Linked DNA regions of Homo sapiens. The protein of the gene in region 1 purifies or fractionates together with the protein of each later gene. This does not show direct contact. Each region holds a gene or a part of one and is shown in the gene's direction. Other genes may lie near its edges. The genes, in order: MME, MTHFD1, LEMD2, POTEI, PAM16, SLC67A1 and RGPD6.

What was found.
Region 2: the proteins of MME (region 1) and MTHFD1 purify together in Homo sapiens (affinity purification with mass spectrometry; one large-scale study listed by BioGRID and IntAct). This does not show direct contact.
Region 3: the proteins of MME (region 1) and LEMD2 purify together in Homo sapiens (affinity purification with mass spectrometry; one large-scale study listed by BioGRID and IntAct). This does not show direct contact.
Region 4: the proteins of MME (region 1) and POTEI purify together in Homo sapiens (affinity purification with mass spectrometry, with the first as the bait; one large-scale study listed by BioGRID). This does not show direct contact.
Region 5: the proteins of MME (region 1) and PAM16 purify together in Homo sapiens (affinity purification with mass spectrometry; one large-scale study listed by BioGRID and IntAct). This does not show direct contact.
Region 6: the proteins of MME (region 1) and SLC67A1 purify together in Homo sapiens (affinity purification with mass spectrometry; one large-scale study listed by BioGRID and IntAct). This does not show direct contact.
Region 7: the proteins of MME (region 1) and RGPD6 purify together in Homo sapiens (affinity purification with mass spectrometry, with the first as the bait; one large-scale study listed by BioGRID). This does not show direct contact.

The regions. Positions count from the first base shown.
Region 1 is NC_000003.12:155,142,819-155,146,318, forward strand, and holds part of MME (neprilysin), read left to right. Parts: intron 1-624; coding exon 625-753; intron 754-1,540; coding exon 1,541-1,639; intron 1,640-3,500. UniProt on the Homo sapiens protein: Thermolysin-like specificity, but is almost confined on acting on polypeptides of up to 30 amino acids. Biologically important in the destruction of opioid peptides such as Met- and Leu-enkephalins by cleavage of a Gly-Phe bond.
Region 2 is NC_000014.9:64,419,353-64,422,852, forward strand, and holds part of MTHFD1 (C-1-tetrahydrofolate synthase, cytoplasmic), read left to right. Parts: intron 1-461; coding exon 462-573; intron 574-3,500. UniProt on the Homo sapiens protein: Trifunctional enzyme that catalyzes the interconversion of three forms of one-carbon-substituted tetrahydrofolate: (6R)-5,10-methylene-5,6,7,8-tetrahydrofolate, 5,10-methenyltetrahydrofolate and (6S)-10-formyltetrahydrofolate.
Region 3 is NC_000006.12:33,775,631-33,779,130, reverse strand, and holds part of LEMD2 (LEM domain-containing protein 2), read left to right. Parts: intron 1-743; coding exon 744-889; intron 890-1,891; coding exon 1,892-1,993; intron 1,994-2,074; coding exon 2,075-2,177; intron 2,178-3,500. UniProt on the Homo sapiens protein: Nuclear lamina-associated inner nuclear membrane protein that is involved in nuclear structure organization, maintenance of nuclear envelope (NE) integrity and NE reformation after mitosis.
Region 4 is NC_000002.12:130,471,329-130,474,828, reverse strand, and holds part of POTEI (POTE ankyrin domain family member I), read left to right. Parts: intron 1-269; coding exon 270-451; intron 452-3,500.
Region 5 is NC_000016.10:4,344,822-4,348,321, reverse strand, and holds part of PAM16 (mitochondrial import inner membrane translocase subunit TIM16), read left to right. Parts: intron 1-3,500. UniProt on the Homo sapiens protein: Regulates ATP-dependent protein translocation into the mitochondrial matrix. Inhibits DNAJC19 stimulation of HSPA9/Mortalin ATPase activity.
Region 6 is NC_000011.10:2,912,278-2,915,777, forward strand, and holds part of SLC67A1 (solute carrier family 67 member A1), read left to right. Parts: intron 1-2,511; exon of another isoform or gene 2,512-2,872; coding exon of another isoform or gene 2,873-2,979; exon of another isoform or gene 2,980-3,500. UniProt on the Homo sapiens protein: May act as a transporter of organic cations based on a proton efflux antiport mechanism. May play a role in the transport of chloroquine and quinidine-related compounds in kidney. Plays a role in the regulation of lipid metabolism.
Region 7 is NC_000002.12:110,532,223-110,535,722, reverse strand, and holds part of RGPD6 (RANBP2-like and GRIP domain-containing protein 5/6), read left to right. Parts: intron 1-34; coding exon 35-2,258; intron 2,259-3,149; coding exon of another isoform or gene 3,150-3,253; exon of another isoform or gene 3,254-3,500.

The DNA.
Region 1 (3,500 bases):
TGAGGGGAGTAGGCAGTAGGGATTGAGGAAGGAGAGACTCCAGCAAACATGTTAGTTGGAGTCTTGGAAAGAAAATAACGTGGACTGATTAAAATTTCTAGTTTTTATCCTTAAAAAGAAAATGTAGACATCTTTTTAAAATTAAAGAATGCAAAAATGTATTGTGCTAAATCTCCCTTACTTAGGTTATCCTGTTATTCTTAAATTTATACACATACAGGTTCTGTAAGTACTCAGAGTTCAGCTAAAACCTTGAAAAGCAGTAATGTGTTTTCTCATATACCATATTTCCCCCATTACATTTATTGAATATGACTTCACATTTATGTTTGTGCAGTGGTTACAGTGTTGTATGTTTTTCTAACGCTTTCTACAATGATATTAAGTTGTAATAGCAAAAAGTTCTACTGGGGCATCTACTGAAAATATGCCTAGTTTTCAGATCATATATAAGTAAACAATCCATTTGGATTACATTTCATCATAGGCTAGGAACATGGGCCTTGTGAGGAGAAGTGATGAATATTTCAAGAACTTAGATGAGACATTTGTGAAATGTGTGCTCTTAACATGCTCCAGACCTTTCCTTCTGGTCAAATGCCATTTCCTTTTTCTTTTCCGTAGGCCCTTTATGGTACAACCTCAGAAACAGCAACTTGGAGACGTTGTGCAAACTATGTCAATGGGAATATGGAAAATGCTGTGGGGAGGCTTTATGTGGAAGCAGCATTTGCTGGAGAGAGTAAACATGTGGTAATGTTTTCAGAATAATACACTGTCAGTTATACAGGACACTATCAGTTTGTTCACACTGATGAGCAATTACAGTTCTCCATCATTTGGCTAAAATTTTATTAATTTAGGCAGAGAACCTCTGAATCATAATATGCCATTGTTTCCCAATAAATCTTCCCTTGCCTTCCCCAAGAGTCTAGTTATGTTTCTGCTCCTAATACTGTCTAGTCTGAAACCAACTCACCATTTTCCAGAAGCAGTGTATTTGGAGTACCCAGTAACATGTTCTATTGATATAGTCATTTATAAACTCTTCTATTATCAAAATTGCCCCCAAATTAGTATTTTCTTAAAAACATAGAAAGTAAAACAGGATTTATTTGGAGTATAAGAAATGTGCTTTATTTTTCATTGTTAGGAAAATGAAGACAGTGGAACTTAATGGTATGGTGAAAGAATTTATTGAAATGCTACTTTATGCTTAGCTAAACCACTAATGGTAATGACAGCCCTAATATTTTACATTAGTTCTTCCAGTATGATAGTGAAACCATTATATTCTGAAAATGATTTTTACCTTAATGCATATATTAAGACCTATTTAATCAAGAGTGTCGATAATAGCAATATTGCTTTTAAAATATAATGGTCCCATATATCTGTTAGCTTAGGTCACAGTTTGTCTATAAATTTACGTTTATTAACATATTAAGTCATACAAAGATAGCATGTAGCTCTATTTTTAAAAATCTGTGTTACAAAGAATGAATTAATGACCTATATTTGTCTTCTGTTCTGATTTGAGGTCGAGGATTTGATTGCACAGATCCGAGAAGTTTTTATTCAGACTTTAGATGACCTCACTTGGATGGATGCCGAGACAAAAAAGAGAGCTGAAGAAAAGGTAAAGAGCAGACAGCTAACTAGCAAAGAAAAATCTTTGCTAGTATAGGAAAAATTAACTTTAAAAACATTTAGAAAAAAATATAATCAAAGATTGCATAAAAACTTGTAAGCTCCTTCAATATGTAGTGTTTCCAGAAAGAGTTTTTGTGGATAAAGATATATTTCTACAATTTTAATCTTTTATCTCTGCAACCAATACTCTAGCAAGGTGAAAATATTAAGTTTCTGTTCAAGCAAATGTAAGGTGGTGCACTATTGGTGCATTATAAGATCTATAATTAAAGAGATGTTGAAGAAGCTTTTTTATAACTATTCATGCCCACCCATAATGTGCAGCTTTTATTGAGACTTTTACTGAGTTTCATAAGAATAGGTCTAAGATTTCTCAGGAAATCTTAGGTTTAAATTTACTGTGATCATTTGTCTTTATAATTATATAATAACTAGGGGGAACATGTCCTGTGAAAACTGTTAACATGCTTTATGAGCAACATTCACATGCATCCTGACTAATCTCTGTAGTTAGGTTGGCAGAAAAAGCAGACGATTTGGATTGATAGAGGAGACAATAATAAATGTATTTTAATAAGATAATCAACCTTGGTCTAGTTTTCTTTTAGAATTAAATCACATGGAAGGACTATCTTTTTTCAGCTCTCAAAGAGCCCTGAGTGGGTTAGGCCTAGAACCTCTGCCCCCAGTATTGCTATCTTTCCATCACTCTGGCCAGCTCTTCAGACATTCAGGTTGGATTTGCTCCTTTCATGTCACAGCTGTGCATGACATGGCTCTGCTTGGTAAAGCCAGTTGGATTGTTCTGGATCGGCATTTCCAAAGTGGTGTCACAAAATACTGGACATGCAAGTTATTCCACAAGAGGCTCATGGTCAAAAGAGTTTGGTGAACACTTCTTGTAGGAAGGCTTCCCTCATCTCACCCTAGGCTGGGTTACATGCTCCTAGGGTGTGATTTTATTATCATACGTGGGAGTTAATATTTATTTCACTGCTTATCATTGCTGTTTACAATAAGCTCTTTATGGTTGGGGGCAGGGGGGCAGAAAATACTGCCTAGCATTATATCCTCAGCCCTTTATAACATACCTGGCCCTTGGTAGACCCTTGAAATATATTGAGTGAGTAAATTGATAAATTAATTTCCCATCCTGGATATTTATAATAACTTATGATTCTAACCTTATAATCTAACCCATTTTTAATTGTAAGAAGTCCTGCAATAAAGAAACTTGCTTAATGTTTTTGCGACAGCATTTACCCGAAGTAATTCACAATAATTTTTTTGTGTGTTTACTACCTTATACTTTCTGTAGAATTTGTATCCTTTAGAACACTCTTTAAGGAAATGTCTTACAGTAAATAAAGTATCATTAAGTGGGGGCTGGATTGTCATGACTGATGGCAAACCTACAAGAAAATGGGTTTGGCCTCAGTGACTTCAGTGATACATATGAGGCCTGATCCACTGACTGGGGAAATCCTGGGCTCATGTGACAGATTTGTAATAAAACTGCATCCATTTGATGGGAAACCATGTAACTCAGAGATACAGGCTAAACCCCCCATGAAAAATTTAAATTAATTAAATTATTTAAGAGTGATACGAAGTGGTAAAATCAAAAGTCAAGTATCATTGAGAAAATCAAGAGAGAAATAAAATAAAAATAGAAATAACAAGTAGTAAACAAGTGATAATGAAATAATAAAATAAGTAAAATAAACCATTTTAAAATAATTAAAAATGAACTTTAGAAGTAGTGATAAATAGGCCAGGTGCAGTGGCTCCCTGGTGTAATCCCAGCACTTTGGGAGGCCGAGGCAGGCAGATTGCTTGAGCCCAGG
Region 2 (3,500 bases), on another chromosome or scaffold:
TTCCTGAGCCCAAGAATGCGCACACACACACACGTGCCTGTTGACAGTGCAGTCTCTTAAATGTGGGGAGAGAGCAGGAGAGAGGCCTAGTACTTTCTCTTTTAATCCTCCCAAAGTAGTGCTCTACATTCTGTAGGAGAAGGAGCAGTGTCTGGACATAACACGCAGGGCCCCAAGCCTGTTTGCCCCTCTGCCTTGCAGGTTGACACTGATTTCCCTATTGGGTAAAATGGCTGGTGAAAGGGAGCTCTTTGGCATGTGTAGAAATGAGCACGGCATGTGAAGGGCTGTCAGAAACAGTGTGTGGCTTACATTTGAGGCCTTAACCCAATATCTTATGAAATAGCTTATGACACTTAAGAATTTAATACAAAGCTCAGGGATATCCTTTTCATTTCTGGGTTTTTTTTTGGTGTGTATTTCATTATTTCATTTCTGATGTCCAAATCCCCTACCCCTAGGTAAATAAAGGTGACATCCTGGTGGTTGCAACTGGTCAGCCTGAAATGGTTAAAGGGGAGTGGATCAAACCTGGGGCAATAGTCATCGACTGTGGAATCAATTATGTCCCAGGTGAGTGTTGTTGGAGGAGTAAGGTGGCTGCTGGTATTGAGGATGGTATCTAGGTCATCAAAAGAAGCCTGAGAGAGAAGCTTGTCTCATTTTATGCTTGTAGTACTAAGGTTTAGGAGACTGACTAGCCCAAGGGTGCACAGAGTTAGTAGATAGAAGAGTTGCCACTTGCAGGCAGGTCTGCCTGGTGCCAGAGCCTTTGATTTTCATCATGTGCTGTACAGCTTCCAAGATGACTTTGTCCAGGGAGAAAGTGAGAGGGAGGGCAGGAGGGATATATCACTTTATCTTCATGTAGAGATCACCCTTTATTTTAGCAAAGTTGATGGATGGATTTAAAATACAGTATAATTATTGCAAAGTGCTATGAGAGTCCAGAAGAGGGACTCATTCTGCCAAGAGGAGGGCTTTACAAAGAAGATATTTGACCTGGGTTTTTTTCTAGGCTGAGAGGATAAATCTAGCCTTTTAATCATGTCCAAAACTGTACTCGGCATCCTCATCCCCAAGTTACCCCTTACTCCCGTCTTTTGGTTAGTATCACCATTCTTCCTTCCCGCAAGTCTGAAGCCTTTTAGTTTCCCTCCCAAGCATTCCCTATATTGGACCAGTCTCTAAATATTAGGAATTGTTTTCTCTCTCCTCTGTTCTGAGTGTCACCACTGAGTGTTACCTTCTCAGCTGATGGGCTGTGATAACTTCCTTGCAGGTGTCCCTCCCTCCAGCTGCTTCCCACTCAGATCTATCCCCGTGCTCTCGCCTTGCCACGTTCACCTTCTGGCATGGAACTCTGAGCCTCTTCCTTCTTACTTGCCAGACTCCTTAGCCTCACACTAATTTCAGTGACCTCTGCAGCCTGTGATCTCACTTGCGCATGGTGAATACCTGTCTTCAACTTGTAAAGTGGACCACTTTCCCTTCCCTGCGCATGCCTCGTTTGCCCTTTGTAGTTCCCTCACCTGCATTCTTAGTGGAGTGGGCTACTCTTTCAAACAGAAAACTTCACAGAACAATAGGGCAAAACTTGCGTACGTCCTCATAGATCCAAGAAAGGAACAATCTTTAACGGAGCAACTACTGTGTATCCAGCACAATGCCAGGCCTTGGGCTACACAACTGAATAAGGTTCAACTTCACCTTCACCTTCAGCTGCTTCCTCCCCATCTCCTCTCTGTCATGTCTGTTATTCCTTCCAAACCTTGTTTGATTTCCCCTTATCAAGGGATGATCTTTCCTTCTCTCCCTCCCTCCTCTCCCATAGAACATGTGTATTGTATCTTTTGTTGCATGTGTCTCATGTACGGCGTCCTGTGCTCTCCTGCCTAGATAGCTCCTCAAGGGCAGTGGTCACTGTGGCGCCACATCCAGCTTCCTGCCATCTGACCACTGGCACTCATATCTATTGAATTGTCGAAGGGAGTTATAGCTGGAAGTCTTTTTTCTCCCTTCCCATCTCAAGTTTCAGATGTAGACGCTGAGCTGCCAGGAACATTAGTCACTGTCAAGCCTTCACCGTTTTTAACCTCCCTCCCACTCTCCCTACCGTGCTTTTAAGACAGTAGCTCATAATTGATCACTCATTTTCTTGTAGTGTAATTATCTAACAGGCGATAAAGAAATTGCTCTCCTACAACTCCTCACTTTGAATACTTGCGATATGACATTCAAGCTCAGTCTTTTTATTTATTTATTTTTTTAATTTTTTTTTTTTTTCTTGAGACGGAGTCTCGCTCTGTTGCCCAGGCTGGAGTGCTGTGGCGCGATCTCGGCTCACTGCAAGCTCCGCCTTGCGGGTTCATGCCATTCTCCCGCCTCCGCCTCCCGAGTAGCTGGGACTACAGGCGCCCGCCACCACGCCCGGCTAATTTTTTTTGTATTTTTAGTAGAGACGGGGTTTCACCATGTTAGCCAGGATGGTCTCGATCTCCTGACCTCGTGATCCGCCCACCTTTGCCTCCCAAAGTGCTGGGATTACAGGCGTGAGCCACCGCACCCAGCAAGCTCAGTCTTTTTAAAACCTCGCATCTTCTGTATCATATTTCTGCTTTTGGCATTTTTTTTTTGGATTACATGTGAGAAATGGAGAAGAAAAACCTGAGTGGGGATCTTGAGTGTTGCAGATAGGTAGGAAATGTTGACTTAAACATGAAACTTGCCATCCTTTTCACATTGATTCCTTATGTAGACAATAAAATATGAATAAAATCAAAGCAGTATCTTCCCTTCTGGTCAACAGTGTTTTTACTGATCTTGGGCATATAGGCAAATTAATGCTGATACAGCTGGATGTTATTGTGTTCCCCAAAGGATGGCAGAATCACTCAGTTACAGACCAGCAAATGGGCTGCAGGACCTAAAGACTGATATTTGCAAATGTTCACTTTAGAAGCAAACTTTTCTACCACCGAGCTACTTCTTGGTTCATATTTTGATTATTTAAATAGTTTGCATGGTCCACTCAGGGATAACATTGTAAGTCACTTGCCAAATTAAGAATGAATCAAGGTGTGTATACCTTTTACAAAGAAGTAATATTTTTAAAGATTCAAGTGCAGGGCAGAAAGTATTGGCCAGAGAAACACATAAAAGTGCTCTTCCTGCTTGGCTTACTAAAGATAAATTGAGAAGGGCCAGATCAATAGTGTTTTATTTGGAAGGGTTAAAAAGTGGGAACAGATTCCCCACCCTAATGCAATCCAGTCTCAACCTATCCAGTGTAGCTGCTTCTGGACTGGCCTCTATTATTAGGGTCCCCAAATTAAATGTAGAAGAGTCAGGGCTCAGCTGGATCTTTAGTTGATTTTTGTACATGTGATTTCCCAAAGAAAGAGAAATTCTAGGGCTGGGGGTAGATAACCAAAAGGTTTGCTCATTACTGAGGTCATATGCTTAGGCTGAGTAGTGGTCACTTTTTCCACTGACCACAT
Region 3 (3,500 bases), on another chromosome or scaffold:
GGGAAGGCAGCCTGGAGGGTGGCAGAGCCGCTCAGGATGACCATATTGAAAGTGGGTCCTGAGAAATCAGGACACTTGGGATGCCAGCCATTCCAGCATGCAGCCTCAAGAGCATGATATTCTCGCCCTGGGTCACCTAGCTGGAAGAAGGCTCTGGTGTCCCCACCTCTGCAGGTCCTGACACCTCCTGGCCAGAGACCATGGTGGAGGCGCCGTGGCTGGGGTCTGGCCTCGGAGAGCCTGGTGGTTTTCATTCCCCATGAGCCTCACGGATTCCCCATGAGCCTCATGGATGCCCCATGATCTTTACACTTAAACAGCTTATGTGCCTCCTTGTCACCGAGGAAAAGTGCAACCTCCCAGATTCTGTCTTTCAGTTCTTGCCATGCAATTGCAAAGCTAGTGATTCAGTAAACATTTCCATTTCTCTATGCTGGGAGGTGGGAATCCAATTTACAGTTTAATCTCCTGCATGCTGAGAGAGGCTGTCAAAGACCTGACAGGGGGACGTTGCTTTAGCGGTAGGGGTTCAAGCCTGCTGCCGTCTTTAAAGCTTTATTCATTCTAAGTAGCCAATGTGGGAAATTTCTGGAAAGAATGCAGCCAGGATACCAAGCCTATTCTATAAGCAAGTAGAGGCCTTGCGTCCCCACTTTCCTTCGCTTCCTCCTGTTTGAAGTGGGGCTTGCACTGCCTCTCCTTGGAGCTTTCCAACATGTTCAGAGCCCTGTGTCCTGTTTCAGGTTGAAAGGAGAAGACCAGTCTGAATTGGTGACGACTGTGGACAAGGTGGTCTGCCTGGAATCTGCCCACCCCCGCATGGGTGTTGGCTGCCGCCTGAGCCGGGCCTTGCTCACTGCTGTCACCAACGTGCTCATCTTCTTCTGGTGTAAGTCCTCGGCCGCCTTCCCTCCCCTTCTGTGCAGTCAAGCATACTCCTAGGCATGAATGATGAGCTATAGAAATTCCAGGCCCGGAGGGTTCATTTCTGTCTAGTGAACCTGAGGTCTGTCTCATAAAACAGAGGAGATGAACAAGTCAGCCTCTGCCCTGGGTTGTATTTACCTTTGGAGATTGGTGGCAGGAATCCGTGAGGATAACTAGAAAATGTCCTTGATTCAGGGCAGGGGACTGTCAGATTTCCTGAGCGGGAGCCTGGCCTGAGCAGGAGCTGGGCCCCACCCCTTCTGGGCTCTGCAGGGATCCCAGTGTGGACCAGCTTCGAGCAGGAGGCACAGCAGGGGCTTGGCCTACTTTTACTCCCTGAAAAATATAAACATCTCCTGGAGAGCTACAGATACCTGATGAAAGCAAGAAGGACTCAGGGTGCTGCACTGAAAGGAGGGCACCAGTCTTATCCCCTGACATCGGGGGCCGCCTTTGAGCAGAGACCTCAGGGCGTCTCTGAAGGCGAAAGGCCAAGTCACAGAAACCACGGCTTTCCAGAGATAGTTGGAGCTACAAATCACAGACCGCCTCAGTGTGCACACAGCTCCCTCCCCTGTGCCATCAGGCACAGAAATCATTATCGGCAGCAGCATCTCGGAATACAAAGGGCCCCGGCATGTATATATGTATGAAACACTGTGTTCTGGTTCACAAGGGAGGAGATGAAAGCCCCAGAATGAGGTTGGGAGGAGCCGAGATCTGGACGGCTGGGGATGCCGCTGTGGTGACAGCCGGTGGGAGGAAGATGATCACTTAATAATCTGTCGTCCCTCTGCATTTCTGTATCTTTTGTTTCTCGCATGCTGGCCCTGAGCCTGACACATAGTAGGTACCCAAACCCATGTGGTGGATCCCCCACAGCATCCATCACAGCATCTTGTCCATGGTGAGACCCACTGCCAAATGAAGTGTGAGGGATTAACAGTGTTTTGTTCCCTCACAGGCTTGGCTTTTTTGTGGGGGCTCCTAATTCTCCTAAAATATCGGTGGCGAAAGTTAGAAGAGGAGGAACAAGCCATGTATGAGATGGTGAAGAAGATTATAGGTGCGTGGCCCCCTGGTGAATAAAGGGTTGCCGACGCCAGCCAGAGGGTCCTTGCCCTAAATGGTGTGCTCTCTCCTGCAGACGTGGTCCAGGACCATTACGTGGACTGGGAGCAGGACATGGAGCGCTATCCATATGTAGGCATCCTGCACGTGCGCGACAGCTTGATCCCTCCACAGAGCCGGTGAGTCCCTGGCTGGGGCGCTGGGTGTGAGGTAAGATGGGGTCCGACCCCACTGAGCTCCCCAGAAGGAAACCCAGAGCCTTGCATCAGATGTCAGCTGAGGGCAGTGCAGACCCCAGGGCCAAGAGTGGCTCTGCTCCCACTCCTGCTGCTCCCCAGCATGCTCGGCTCTTTATGGCAGGATGAGCTAGAAAAGACATATGAAAGCACAATCCCACACCTCTGTAGAGAGAACACTGGCAGTGGTGATACCAGTTAGGAGGCCTTGGGCTCCAAGTAATAGCAGCTCCCTCCCCCAGGGCACAAGTAGTGAAGGATCTCCTCAGTCTCTGTAAGTGGAAGTTCAGAGCTGCATGGGCTCCAGGCACAGAACAGTCAGGTCTCCGGTTCCATTGCTCTTGTGATTCTCGTGGTCCCACACTCCTCCATGGATGTTATCAACAGACTGGGGTCCCTCATGGTTGCAGATGGTGGCCAACAGCAGCTGGGGCACTGTCTGCCTTGTCACAGCCAGCAGGGGAAAAGTAGGCCTATTGTTGTCTTATAAGCAAGAGAACATGTTCCCAGTAGCCTCCAGTGACACACTCCTTGAGGCTTTATTGACCAGAATCTCTTACATGTCTGTTTATGAATCAGTCACTGGCAAGGAGGAGGAAATTGTTTTTCAAACTTTTTAAACCATGACCTGCAGTCAAAAACACCTGTTACCTGCAACATCATGGTCCAGTTCCCACACACGCATGCGTACACTCATGCATATACATGTAATTGAAAGCAAAGTTTCACAACATGAATGGGGTCAGCTTCCAGGGCACATAGCTTCATGGGAAGGGGTGGCAGGGCCACTGTCATGTGCAGCTGCAGGGCACCTTCCACATGGGCTGTGACTGCTGGAGTTGTACACTGGGGTCCTGACAGAACCAGGGTGGGGGAGGGCAGAGTCCCAGGAGACAGCCAGCAGGGCCCCCCCCAGTGTTGGCTCTGGTTGTGGTCCCTCCCTAGCAGACACTTGCTGTGGTTTCTGGCCAGATGCTGTCATCTGCTGGGTGATGCTGAGAGCTCACCCTTGCTGAGTGCTCCCTGGGAGCCGGGCACTACTTGGAGCTCTCCACAGATGCAAACTCACTCACTTGGTCCTCACCATGGTTCACGCACACAACAGAAGTGGCCCCATTTTACCTATAAGGGAACTGAGGCACAGGGAAGTAGAGGAATGTGCTCAAGAGTCCCATGGCTAGTGGCATTTCCGTGCTCCCGCCACCAGGCTCTACTGTCAACATCATCCCTATCTGCAACCCAAGAGGAATCAGAAAAATAGAGCCG
Region 4 (3,500 bases), on another chromosome or scaffold:
CATACATGATCCTATCATGTAAGTAGCATAAATCATCAGTGAAAAATTAAATAGTTAACTCAGAATTCTGTACATTGAATTTTGAAGAGGTGCAAACCCTAGAGCTATTCTTTCATTATTATGGAATAATCCCGAATGGTGCCATAAAATGCTAGGTAATGCCACTTTAGGAGCTTTAGACCAATTATTTTATCTTTCTTGGTTTTAGTCTGATTATCAGTAGATAATGTGCCTAAAGTAGATAATTTCTTATTCTCTGTATTTTCCAGCTAGAAAATTTTATGGCTATCGAAGAAATGAAGAAGCACGGAAGTACTCACGTCGGATTCCCAGAAAACCTGACTAATGGTGCCACTGCTGGCAATGGTGATGATGGATTAATTCCTCCAAGGAAGAGCAGAACACCTGAAAGCCAGCAATTTCCTGACACTGAGAATGAAGAGTATCACAGGTAAGCCTATGGCAACATTGAACAGGAGGTAACTTTGTGCTGTCAAACTAATCCTAATTTGAGCTAATATTCATGATGAACAAATTTTATACTTTTATTAGGATATTGAGCCTTGCCTGTTAATCAGAAAAATGAAAATCAGCAAACAATCAGTTACCGTTTTTTTTCCAGTCATTAATTTATTTGAAAAATAACCAGTATTGGCAAATGTGAGGGAAAAGGCATTTTCTTCTCTTTTCAGTGAACTTTTATTTTAGCTTCGGGTACGTGTGCAGGTTTATTATATAGGTAAACTGTATCATGGAGGCTTGGGGTACAGATTATTTCACCAGCCACATAATAAACAAAATACTCGAAAGGTAGTTTTTTGGTCGTCTCCCTCCTGCCATGCTCCTCCCTCAAGTAGGCCCCAGTGTATGTTATTCTCCTCTTTGTGTCCATGAGTTCTCATGTTTAGTTCCCACTAATGAGTAAGAATATGTGGCATTTGATTTTCTGTTCCTGCATGAGTTTTCTTAGGATAATGGCCTCCAGCTCCATCCGTGTTGCTGCAGGGGAAATGGTTTCATTGAAAAAGACATTTCATATACTGTTGGTAAATACATTTTGAACATTAATTGAGTAGCATATTCACACACACATATATAACAGAGTAAGCATATATAATACATGTAAAGGATATTTGTATAGATATGTTATATGTATACTTATGTATAAGGACATTTATTATAGTATTATTATGTAAAAAATTTGGAACTAGTCTAATTGCTTATCAATAGGAAATAGCTCAATTTCCATATCCCCAAAATAATGTATTATGCAACCATTTTTAAAAAATGAGGTTAGATGTAGGGTATACTGATTATTTCACAATTAAAATGTATTTAAAGCGTTTAGTTTGATGACACATCTTAAGAGTTCTTGTTAAAATTCTTGTAATATCTGCTGTGTTGCAAATGGAAGCTACATGCTACATTGACACTGTACCTTGTTAGCAACAAGATTGCTAGTTACTAAATTTTTGTTGTCAGTGCCTGAGTGCTGAAATATTGGACCCTCAATCTGAATATTGCCAAGGGATTGTACATGGGGATCTATATTTAATATAAACATTTCAGTATATTTGGTAAAACTTTTATTAAAATACATCAAAGAATCTTTGATCTACTAAACCAGGAGTTGGCCAGCTTTTTCTGCAAAGAGCTAGTTAGTAAATATTTTAGGCTTTGTGGACTACATATATTGATTTTCTTGAGACAGGGTCTCACTCTGTTTCCCAGGCTGGAGTGCAGTTGTGTGATCATGGCTCACTGCAGCCTCGACTTTCTGGGCTCTAGTGATCCTCTGACCTCAGTCTCTACTAGCTGAGACCACAGGTGTGCAACATCACACCCAGCTAACTGACACTATGGACTGTAAAGTGAATAAGCATGGCTGTGTTCCAAGATACTTGACTTACAAAAACGGGCAGTGGGCTGGATTTGGCCCACAGGTGCTTATTTGCTGACCCTTGTGCTAAAAGGAAGGTGCTGCTAATGCAGTGACTTTTATTTGTAAAAGTGCCCTGCATGTGTGACATTATCCTCCCTTTGAGAAAAGGATATATTTCAGTATTCACCTCACCGTATTTTTCCAGTGACTTCATATGATTTTGAAAACTACATTTATAAAATAAGATTATTTTCTGCATTTCTCCCACTTTATTCCTGTTAATAGAACTCAGTATTTTACTGTGATCAATTACTTTGTATATTTGATGAGTGTCAACTGTCCTAGAATTGGCTGATTTTTATCAAGCAAGAAATATTCTCCTTGAGAGTTTTAGTATTTCTTGGTCTTTATGTATAAGCATGAACAAAATGATAATCAGCTTATGTAATCTAGAAATGTTCAAAGGGCCTTTAAAAACCTTGGTCTGACATTTCTAAATGCCATATGTGTATAATTTTTATAACCTTTAGAATATATAATTGTTACATAAAATTTGAAAACTCCACCTGTTATGTAAAATTTGGAAGCTACTATTTCTTGTCTATCACTTTTCCATGACTGTGGATGAAAATTACATCATTCTCAGTCATGAGCGTTAAGTATGTTGTCCTTAAAGAACTGTCTACACTCATGAACTCAAATTTTCTTTCCATTCACTCTTGATCTCAATGCCGGTAAGTCTTCAATTTCAGCACTCCTCCAGAGTTGTTTTTCCTCAAGATTATCACTAATTTTTTTCTGTACTAAATCTAGGCATTTTTCTTACACCTCATTTAATCTGTCAGCAATATTTGAGCCAATGGAGGGCATCTCCTCCCTAATGGCGTCTTCACTTGGCTTTCAGGACCTCACTCCCTCAGGCTTTTCCTCCTGCCTTTCTAGTCCGTTTATCATGGTCTGTTTTGCTTGCTGCTCCTCATCTTTCTCCTTTTGGACATTGTTGTTTCTCATGGCTCAGTCCTCAATCTTCTTTCTCATGGTTTTTTTTTTTTTTTTTTTTTTTTTTTTAAGACAGAGTCTCGCTTTGTCCCCCAGGCTGGAGTTCAGTGGCATGATCTTGGCTCATTGCAACCTCTGCCTCATGAGTTCCAGCACTTCTCCTGCCTCAGCCTCCTGAGTAGCTGGGATTACAGGTGTGCGACACCACGCCTGGCTAATTTTTGTATTTTTAGTAGAGACAGGTTTCCCCATGTTGGCCAGGCTGGTCTCAAACTCCTGACATCAGGTGATCTGCCCGCCTTGGCCTCATGACATGTTGGGATTACAGGCGTGAGCCACCGTGCCTGGCCCCTCATGACTTTTTCTACTGTGTATATGCTAGTGATTTCCAAATGTATGTCTCCAACTTAGATCTCTTTCCTTAATTCCAGATCTCTATATCATCCCACCTACTTGACATCTCTATTTGATTAGCTGTTGGGTATCACACACTTGTCAGATCCAAAATTGGGCTACTGATGTCCTTCCTGAAATCTACACCTCATGTAGTCTTTCCTACTTTGGTTAACAGCAACTCTTCCAGTTGCTCTGCCAAAAACCTCAGTGTTATTCTTGACTG
Region 5 (3,500 bases), on another chromosome or scaffold:
AGAAGGGTTAGGAGGCGCTTGGAAACCCTGCCTGGGGACATGGAGTTCATGAGACAGCAGATTGGGCAAAGCTGCAACAGCCATATTCATTCAGATGCACCAGGGGCACTTACTGCGCCAGCCACTGGCCAGGTCCCTGATGTTGTGGCACGTGCTACAGTTGTGGTCCTGACCTTTCTCCTGTCTAGTTGTGATGCCCGTATCTATTCTCAGGGGCCCTGGGTGACCAGAGTGTCCTTGAGAGTGAGTCTCAGGCTGTCTGCTTATCTACCCAGAGCCTGGGGCTTGGCCTCAAAGGCGCATTGCACGCGAATCTCAAAGACACAAGTCAGTGTAAGCCCCATTGCTGAGTGCCTCCCACAGCACTGTCTGTGGTCCCAGCTGCTGGGATCTGGTCCTGCCTTGGGCCAGGTTGCTGCCCAACAACGAAGTGCACATGCTGCCCCCACGCATGCCAGGATTGGATCCTGTGCTTCTGACTGCTGCTCTCTGACAGCCGCGTGGCCTGAAGTTGGATGCCAAGTCAGCTGGGTCCTCTCACCTGGGACCCTCAGGCCCAAGTGTCAGTCGGTGGACTATGGGATGTTTGGAGCCTCTGGGAGGGGCCTCAGGCAGTGGTTGTTTTGGTCACCCATGGTAGCCACAGCTGGCAGAGCTCTGCTCCCTGTGAATGAGCTCTGAACTCAGCCTGACCCATGGCAGAAGCTCAGGGGATGTTGGGGTACTGGATAGGTGGATGAGGGGCTTGCCTGCACCGCCTAGTTCTGGACCTGCCGCTGTTTGTCCATGTGGTGTTAATGGGCATTGCCTCCTGAGGGCCTTACTGTCCTCTTGTGAGGAGGGTGTTATTCTCTCCATCTTGCAGTTAAGAAAACTGAGGTAGGCTGGGCACAGTAGCTCACACCTGTAATCCTAGCACTTTGGGAAGCCGAGGAGGGCAGTTCATGCGAACCTAGGAGTTCAAGACCAGCCTGGGCAACATGGCGAAACCCCATCTCTCCAGAAAAGTACATTTAGCCAAATGTGGTGGCGTGTGCTCAGCCTCCAGAAGTTATGAAATTTCCACCTACTTGTGAAATCCTAACCCACTTGTGTTTGTTCATTCCCCTAATGGCCCATATCACATCCCGCCTGTTAAGGAAAGAGCAGGTCCTCGGAGGCTGAGTACAAGTAGCTCCAGCTACTCGGGAGGCTTAAGCAGGAGAATCTCTTGAGGCTGGGAGGCTGAGGCTGCAAGTGAGCCATGATTGCACCACTGCACTCCAGCCTGGACGACAGAGTTAGACTCTGCTTCCAAAAAAAAGGCCAGGTGTGGTGTCTCATGCCTGTAATCCCAGCACTTTGGGAGGCCGAGGCGGGTGGATCACCTGAGGTCAGGAGTTTGAGACCAGCCTGACCAACATGGTGAAACCTCGTCTCTATTAAAAATACAAAATTAGCTAGGCTTGGTTGTGTTCACCTGTAATCCCAGTTACTTGGGAGGGTGAGGCAGGAGGATCGTTTGAACTGGTGAGGTGGAGGTTGCAATGAGCCGAGATTGAACCACTGCACTCTAGCCTGGGTGACAGAGCGAGAGTCAGTCTCAAAAAAATAAATAAAAAATAAAAGACCCAAACCAAAACAAAAAAAGATTCAGAGAGGTTGAGTAATTTGTCCAGGGTCACACAGCTATTGAGAAAGAAAGCTAGGGTTCTGGTCCCAGGTCAACGTGGTTCTCGTTCTGCTTCCTTGCTGCTTCCCAGCTCCCTGAGGGAATGTAGTATGGTGTTTTGCAGCCTTCACCCCTGAGGAAGCAAAGGGCCTGTATCAAATGAGCTGCTATTTTGAAAGAAGCTTTGTTACTTCATAGTGCCTGGTCATTGTCAGATTTTGTGAAACAGTAGTAATGAATGAAAACCAATGTTTATTGAGCACCTGCTGTACCATTAGGCTGTGTGCCAGGCATTTGACAGGCATTATCTCAGCTTTATTGGTGGCCACATTTTACAGGTAAGCAAACTGGGTTGCTCAAAGGAGTTGAGAACGTGTCTATGTCAGATAGCTGGGATTTTTGCACACAGGTGATCCCAAAGCCTGCAGGTGTAACCATTACACTACACTGCGTCTTCTCAGAGATGCCTCCTATAGGAACCTTGCTGGCCTCAATGGGCCGTCCAGTCTGCTGAAACTTTGCAGGCCAGCCCCCCTCTGCCCTGCAGCTCTAGGCAGCTGAAGCCACAGGCCACCACGCCGCTTTGGTTTGAAGTGTGCAGGGGATGGTCGGGGAAGCTCCCCAGTTATGACCTCAGCTCTTACCGTTCATTATTTTGCAACAGTCATTGGCCTTGGCAGAAAAGTAAACAAGTGATTGCAAGGCTGTACGATGGCAGCAGAGGGACCGAAGGCTGTTGGTGTGAGGGGTAGTCTGAGACCTGAGCCGTGTTTCAAGCCGAGGGGACCCTCTGACTTTCACCTCTGTCCTTCAGACAGCACCAGCATCCCATCCCTGAGCCTCCTGTTCCACTCGGGAGGGGCTTTAGGAAGGAGGCGAAGTCAGGTGAGACCGCAGGTGTCATCAGGTGCATCCCTGACCCTCCCTCATCTGCAGTACAGCCACAGCCCTGCCCCTCGCTGTGATCACAGGAGGGTCTTCTCTGGGCTCTTTCTGCTGTGAAATCCAGAAGTTATGAAGTTTCCACCTACTTTTGAAATCTTAACCCACTTGTTTGTTCATTCCCCTAATGGCCCATAATGACATCCCACCTGTTAAGGAAAGAGCAGGTCCTCGGAGGCTGAACAAGGCCAGCTCTGGAGTCGAATCCACTGGAATCTGGAGCAAGCCCCTCTGGCCTCGGGGTTGGGTTCTTGATACTTGTCGGCTTGCCCAGGTGCCCTACCTTCAGACCCCGGGACCCTGCGTAGTGACTGCTGTGACAGATAGCACCAGCCTTGGGTTTCCGATCTGCCTCCGAGGCACCTGCTGTTACGTCCTCGGGCCAGTCAGCAGTCCCCCACCCCTGAGTTGTCAGAATTAAACGGCACAATGAATTGAACGTGTTTGGCACCGTGCCTGGTGTGTGGACTCAGTTGATACTTGTTGACTGAAGGCAAATCTACAGAAAAGCACTAGGAAGAAAGGGAAAGTCACTCGGCTGTGCCACATGAGCTTTCAACCTATGCCGAGCTGCCTCCAGCCCGCGCCACCCCCCTGCGTCTACGGCTTTGCAGTCACAAGATCCTTTGTATGTGCTGTCTATATATAATCGCTTTGTTTCACAAAGATCTGTGCATCTTTCCATGTCATCCGCCAGATTCCCAGTCTTTCCCAGGCCAGCCTAGGCTATTGGCTGCTCGCAGGAACTCCCTTCTGCCTTCTCTCCTGCCAGTTTTGGCTCAACCCAGTCCCTCTGCCTAGAAAGCCCTAGTATTTCCATCATGATTCTTCCTACCCTGCAAAGCCCAGCCCAGGAGGAACCCCCTCCTCTCACGGAACCCCCTCCTCTCACAGAACCCCCTCCTCT
Region 6 (3,500 bases), on another chromosome or scaffold:
CCTCGGGGGCTCACCGAAGGCAGTGGGGCCAGGTGCCAGCCAGGCTCCAAAGCCTGGTGCCCCATGGCAAGGGCCAGCCCCCTGGCCCTCTTGGTCCAGCTGCCCCAACGCCTGCAGCCTGTTCTGGCTCCTGGCCTGGTGCGGGGCAGGAGTCTGGTGCAGCTGTGAACATCCCCCGCCTTGCAGCCTTCCTGCCCTTCCTTGATGGAAACCGAGGCACAACATGTGTGGGCTTTCCCTCCCTGCCCACCCACCTGTGTATCCCATTCCTCTGGAAGGCCCCAGTCCTGCCTCATCCGCACCCACCTGGGCAGCAGGTGGGAGGAGGAAGTGGACTTGGCACCCACAGGCTGCGGGGGCGGGCACTGGTATAACTGGTTTGGGCCCAGCCTCCAGAGCCCAGGGCTGAGAGGCCAGGCTGGCCTGAGGAGGGACCCGGGACCTGAGTCACTGCACACACGCTGGGTGGGGGGTGGCTCTGTGACTCATGTTCTGAGCCCAGCCCCTCACAGACTGGGGAGGGATGGGGAGGGGCCATAGAGTCCTATCCTGAGCCAGACAGCAGGGAGCCCTGCAGGGTTTGCCTTCCCCAGGTGGACAGGCAGCCACCAGGGCCATGCCGGTGCCATGGGGGTGCCAGGGCCCTGTGGGCAGGACACCCCTGCCCAGCCAAGAAAAAACAAGGAGCCAGGGGCACTGGAGCTCAGAGAGGGAGGAGGGGATGGGAGGGGAGGTGAGCAGTGTCCCATACGACCCAGGGCACCCCAAGCGCTGAGCGGAGGCTGAGGAGTGCAGGGGTGTTTGTAACAGGGCACCTGCTGTACAGGGAAGAGGCTCTCGGGGGCAGATAGATGCAGGGCAGGGGCTGGCAGGCAGCTGAGGGAGCAGCAGGATATGGGCGACCCAGGCCCGCCGCCCCCCCAGCCAGGTGACTCAGCTACTGCCTTAGTTCGTGTACCTCGCAGTGCCCAGGACACTCCGGTTCTTTCTGTTCTTCCCACAGTGGGCAGGCAGCAGGCCCCGCTGAGATGGTTCTGGCCCCGCTGTCCCTCAGGACAGCCCTGTTGAGCAGCAGGCTGGACAGGCCTCCTGCTGGGCCCGTGAGTCACTCCAGTCTCAGAGCCCATTTGGGGCAGGAGGGAGCTTGTGGTTTGGTTGGAGGGCTATGTGTTTGGGGAATGGGGGGACCAGGTACGAGGAGACACGAGGACTGGGAAGGGTCAGGCCAGAGGGGCCTTTAGGACCTTCTGGGGCACGCTGGAAGCCAGACGGCAGCTGCGTTAGGAGTGGCATGGCAAGATGTTCATTTTCAAACATGGTTCTAACTGCAGCATCCTGGAGCACGGATGACTTCTCTCAGCCCTGGGCTGGACATCCAGGGACGCTCTGGACAGCCCCCTGCCCCATCGTCTTGTGAGCTAGGTGTCCCACAAAGCCAGGTCCCAGCTGACCTAGCCTCAGCCCCACCTGTGGGTTCGCTCCTGGCAGCAGGATGACCTGGGCACATGCTGTCACCTTGTGCGTCCCCTTTCAGAGCCTCAGAGTAAGGTGAGGCTTGATGAGGGCTTGTCACCGTAGAACACACAGAAGCCCAGACTTCAGCAGAGGTTCCTGGAGACGCGATTGAAAGCCAACTCCACGCCCTGCTATCTGGGCAGCCTCAGGTGTGGGCTGCGGTTGGTGGGCAGGATGCAGGTGGGCTGCGCCCTGCAGGTCCAGAGGGGCCCCAGAACAGTGGAGTTAGGGGCAGCCGGCAGCTGTGAACCCAGCCCTCATTTGCATATAAGGAAATGAGGTCACCTAGCAGGTAAGCGGCAGAGAAGGGACAGAGGCTGTGGGTCCCCTGAGTCCTGTCCAGTGTCCTTTCAACAGCATCCAGACAGACACTCCTGTAATCCATTCAACTGAAAGAGCAGGAGGAGACAAAGACAAATTAACCTGTCCCCACCTTCCTGGTCGTGGCTCCACTGATAAAAGTGTTGGATGAGCCCCGGGAAGCCAGCGTGCCCCTGCGTCTGGCAGGTCGTGGTGAGGTTGAGGGGGGCTGAGCAGGAGGGGCTGACGGCACCGTGCTAAGGGTGCTTCCAGTCAATGGTCCCGGGGGATGCCCAGGCTGTCCGGCGTGCAGAGGCCCCAGGGCTGGGGCCAGCGTGCTGGATTTCCTTCCCACTCCCGTTTCCCTCCTGGCAGTTCATTTTTGGGGAGCAGGAGAGCTGTGACTGGGGAAGGACAGCCTGCGTCTCCCCCAGCAGCCACCCACGGCCCCTGGCACAGTGGTGGGACCTGACTCCCTACCTCCTGGGGCCCTCCAGGGTCCCCCAGCCCCAGGCTTTCCTGTTGCCCACAGCAGCACAGGCCTTTGGTTTACCCACCACCGCTCGAGGGCCTGGCTTCCTGCCACCATGCCTTGCTTGTCACCAGCCTCCTAAAATAGCCATCGAAGTGGTGCGTCTGCTCCTGTGTACTTCTGGGACATCTGGCAAATAAGGCAGGTTTTGCCCCTGCCCAGCCAGACCCTGAGCTGTGACACGCAGGCCTCTGAGGCCAGGGTCCCAAAGAAAGGGCCCGTCTCTCTGGGGCTGGCCACAGGGGCCAGTTGTCCCTCCTGCGCCATACATCTGTGCCTGCTGGCTGGAGGGACAAGCTGTGGCGCCCGAGCCCAGCCGTTCCCCTTCCCTGGCATTTTCCCAAAGGAAGGGCCCATTCGTGCGGAACCCCAGCAGCCAGAAAACCTGAGTAGCTGACGTCCTGGGCGGTGGGTGCTGCAGGAGTCGGAGCTGCCCTGATGGATTGGCGGGGGCAGCAGCACAGGTGGGGTGGATATGCCAGCACCCCCCTAGACTGATGTGAGCTTAGGGGTCCCACCTCAGAAATGAGGGGTGGCCAATGCCCAGACTCTCTGGACTCAGAGGTGGCCCCACTGACTGTCCTAGTCAGTGTGGCTCCAAGTCCCCTCCTTGCTCTGGCAAACGGATGCAGGTAAGTGTGTGTACAAGTTTGCCCGTGTGTGTGTGTGTGTGCGCATGTGGCTGCGGTGAAGAGGGGCGAGGAAAGTCCTTTCTTTGAACTCCTTGGTGGGGACATGGTGGCCTGTGGCTGGCCTTGTTTTTGGGTGCAAGGGCATCTTCCAGGACCCTGACCCCTACTGGGTGCCTGTGCCCTGAGGCCCTGGCCAGGGCAGATTTGGAGGATCTGTTGAGGTTGGGGCAGAACTTGTGCTGCGTGTGTGAATGGCTCACACATTTGTCCGATCATCTAATGATCACTGCGGTCTCCGCGCAGGGTCCAACCCTGGACCACCTGCCCTCAGGGGCCAGATTCTAGCCAGCTGGTAAAGCGAGTCCTTCTCAGATGGCATGCTGTCTGGGAAGGAGGGCTGGGGCCTCACCAAGAAGGGCCCTTGCAGGCTGTATAGGAGTTTGCTCAGCTGCTGAGAGGAAGGCCGTGGCGGTCCGGCACAGGCCTGGAGGCCTTACAGACGAGCTCAGTAGGAAGCCCCA
Region 7 (3,500 bases), on another chromosome or scaffold:
GGATCAAGAAAATTCACCTTCATTTATGTTTCAGGGTTCTTCTAATACAGAATTTAAGTCAACCAAAGAAGGATTTTCCATCCCTGTGTCTGCTGATGGATTTAAATTTGGCATTTCGGAACCAGGAAATCAAGAAAAGAAAAGGGAAAAGCCTCTTGAAAATGATACTGGCTTCCAGGCTCAGGATATTAGTGGCCGGAAGAAGGGCCGTGGTGTGATTTTTGGCCAAACAAGTAGCACTTTTACATTTGCAGATGTTGCAAAATCAACTTCAGGAGAAGGATTTCAGTTTGGCAAAAAAGACCTCAATTTCAAGGGATTTTCAGGTGCTGGAGAAAAATTATTCTCATCACGATACGGTAAAATGGCCAATAAAGCAAACACTTCCGGTGACTTTGAGAAAGATGATGATGCCTATAAGACTGAGGACAGCGATGACATCCATTTTGAACCAGTAGTTCAAATGCCTGAAAAAGTAGAACTTGTAACAGGAGAAGAAGGTGAAAAAGTTCTGTATTCACAGGGGGTAAAACTATTTAGATTTGATGCTGAGGTAAGGCAGTGGAAAGAAAGGGGCTTGGGGAACTTAAAAATTCTCAAAAACGAGGTCAATGGCAAACTAAGAATGCTGATGCGAAGAGAACAAGTACTAAAAGTGTGTGCTAATCATTGGATAACGACTACAATGAACCTGAAGCCCCTCTCTGGATCAGATAGAGCATGGATGTGGTCAGCCAGTGATTTCTCTGACGGTGATGCCAAACTAGAGCGGTTGGCAGCAAAATTTAAAACACCAGAGCTGGCTGAAGAATTCAAGCAGAAATTTGAGGAATGCCAGCGGCTTCTGTTAGACATACCACTTCAAACTCCCCATAAACTTGTAGATACTGGCAGAGCTGCCAAGTTAATACAGAGAGCTGAAGAAATGAAGAGTGGACTGAAAGATTTCAAAACATTTTTGACAAATGATCAAACAAAAGTCACTGAGGAAGAAAATAAGGGTTCAGGTACAGGTGCGGCCGGTGCCTCAGACACAACAATAAAACCCAATGCTGAAAACACTGGGCCCACATTAGAATGGGATAACTATGACTTAAGGGAAGATGCTTTGGATGATAGTGTCAGTAGTAGCTCAGTACATGCTTCTCCATTGGCAAGTAGCCCTGTGAGAAAAAATCTTTTCCGCTTTGATGAGTCAACAACAGGATCTAACTTCAGTTTTAAATCTGCTTTGAGTCTATCTAAGTCTCCTGCCAAGTTGAATCAGAGTGGGACTTCAGTTGGCACTGATGAAGAATCTGTTGTTACTCAAGAAGAAGAGAGAGATGGACAGTACTTTGAACCTGTTGTTCCTTTACCTGATCTAGTTGAAGTATCCAGTGGTGAGGAAAATGAACAAGTTGTTTTTAGTCACAGGGCAGAAATCTACAGATATGATAAAGATGTTGGTCAATGGAAAGAAAGGGGCATTGGTGATATAAAGATTTTACAGAATTATGATAATAAGCAAGTTCGTATAGTGATGAGAAGGGACCAAGTATTAAAACTTTGTGCCAATCACAGAATAACTCCAGACATGAGTTTGCAAAATATGAAAGGGACAGAAAGAGTATGGGTGTGGACTGCATGTGATTTTGCAGATGGAGAAAGAAAAGTAGAGCATTTAGCTGTTCGTTTTAAACTACAGGATGTTGCAGACTCGTTTAAGAAAATTTTTGATGAAGCAAAAACAGCCCAGGAAAAAGATTCTTTGATAACACCTCATGTTTCTCGGTCAAGCACTCCCAGAGAGTCACCATGTGGCAAAATTGCTGTAGCTATATTAGAAGAAACCACAAGAGAGAGGACAGATGTTATTCAGGGTGATGATGTAGCAGATGCAGCTTCAGAAGTTGAAGTGTCTAGCACATCTGAAACAACAACAAAAGCAGTGGTTTCTCCTCCAAAGTTTGTATTTGTTTCAGAGTCTGTTAAAAGAATTTTTAGTAGTGAAAAATCAAAACCATTTGTATTTGGCAACAGTTCTGCCACTGGGTCTTTGTTTGGATTTAGTTTTAATGCACCTTTGAAAAGTAACAATAGTGAAACTAGTTCAGTAGCCCAGAGTGGATCTGAAAGCAAAGTGGAACCTAAAAAATGTGAACTGTCAAAGAACTCTGATATCGAACAGTCTTCAGATAGCAAAGTCAAAAATCTCTCTGCTTCCTTTCCAACGGAAGAATCTTCAATCAACTACACATTTAAAACACCAGAAAAGGGTAGGTACTTTGTTGTTAAAGTTAAGCACAATTTTTCTTTCTTTTAATGTTTAGCTTGATGCAGACTCTTTGTGGGATACTAATGTTGGGATATAAACGATGCTTTGTGAACACCCCCAAAATATTTGAGCAATTTTTTTTCTCCCTTAATAAGTTCACGGTGAGGTTTCAAAGAGCAAGAGAACTTAGTTAAAGACATTTCAGTAACTGGAAGATACTTCTATCATGCTAGGGCAGAGCAAAAGAACTTGGTACAGTGTACGGACTCATGCTTGAATCATGCGCATTAACGTGAGTCTTTTTTTAAAGTGTTCATTTTCATTTGTTCTGTTTCTTTTGTCACTCAGAAAACATGATATTGAGGCTGGGCACGGTGGCTCACTCCTAGAATGCCAGCACTTTGGGAGGTTGAGGTGGGCAGATCACTTGAGCTCAGGAGTTCGAGACCAGCCTGGCCAACATGGTGAAACCCTGTTTCTACTGAAAATACAAAAATGAGCCGGGCATGGTGGTGCGTGCCTATAATTAGCAGCTACTCAGGAGGTTGAGGCAGGAGGATCGCTTGAGCACAGGAGATGGAGGTAGCAGTGAGCTGAAATCATGCCACTGCACTCCAGCCTGACTGAGTGACTGAGTGAGACTTTGTCTCCAAAAAAAACAAAAAACAAAAAACAAAAAAAAACATGATATTGAGATGTTCTCATTTTATGTGTTGTATGTCAGTCTTGCTCATGTATTAAATGAGCAAAGAATGAAACTACAGGGATAAATGAATATGTAAGACAGTCAGATTGGTGGTATAAATTGAGGGATTCTGGCTTTTTATGTTTTAAAAGCATATTCATTTTGTTTCCTAAAATGTTAAAAAATGAAATATTCTTTATTTTCTAGGATTTAATTTTAGCCTTTTTAAATCTAATCCCATGGCCTTTTGGACTAGCACCCCTTCCTCACAGCCTGAGAGCAAAGGTATAGAACTAGCATTCTCAGTATGAGATAACAGCAGTTTTTAGCAGCTGGGTAGCCCTTAGCAAAGTATTAATTACTGTGGCTGTATGAAATGAAGTACTTACCACTACAACATGCATGTTAAAGAATGCCAGTTTAAGCAAAGTACCTTTTGACTGGTGGCATGACACCCTTGTTGGTTTGTTTTTTAAAATGTAGTGGGATGCTGATTTGTAATGTACTTCATTGCTCTGCTATTTCAGGTCTGCTCAATGAAGACCTATGTTTTATCTA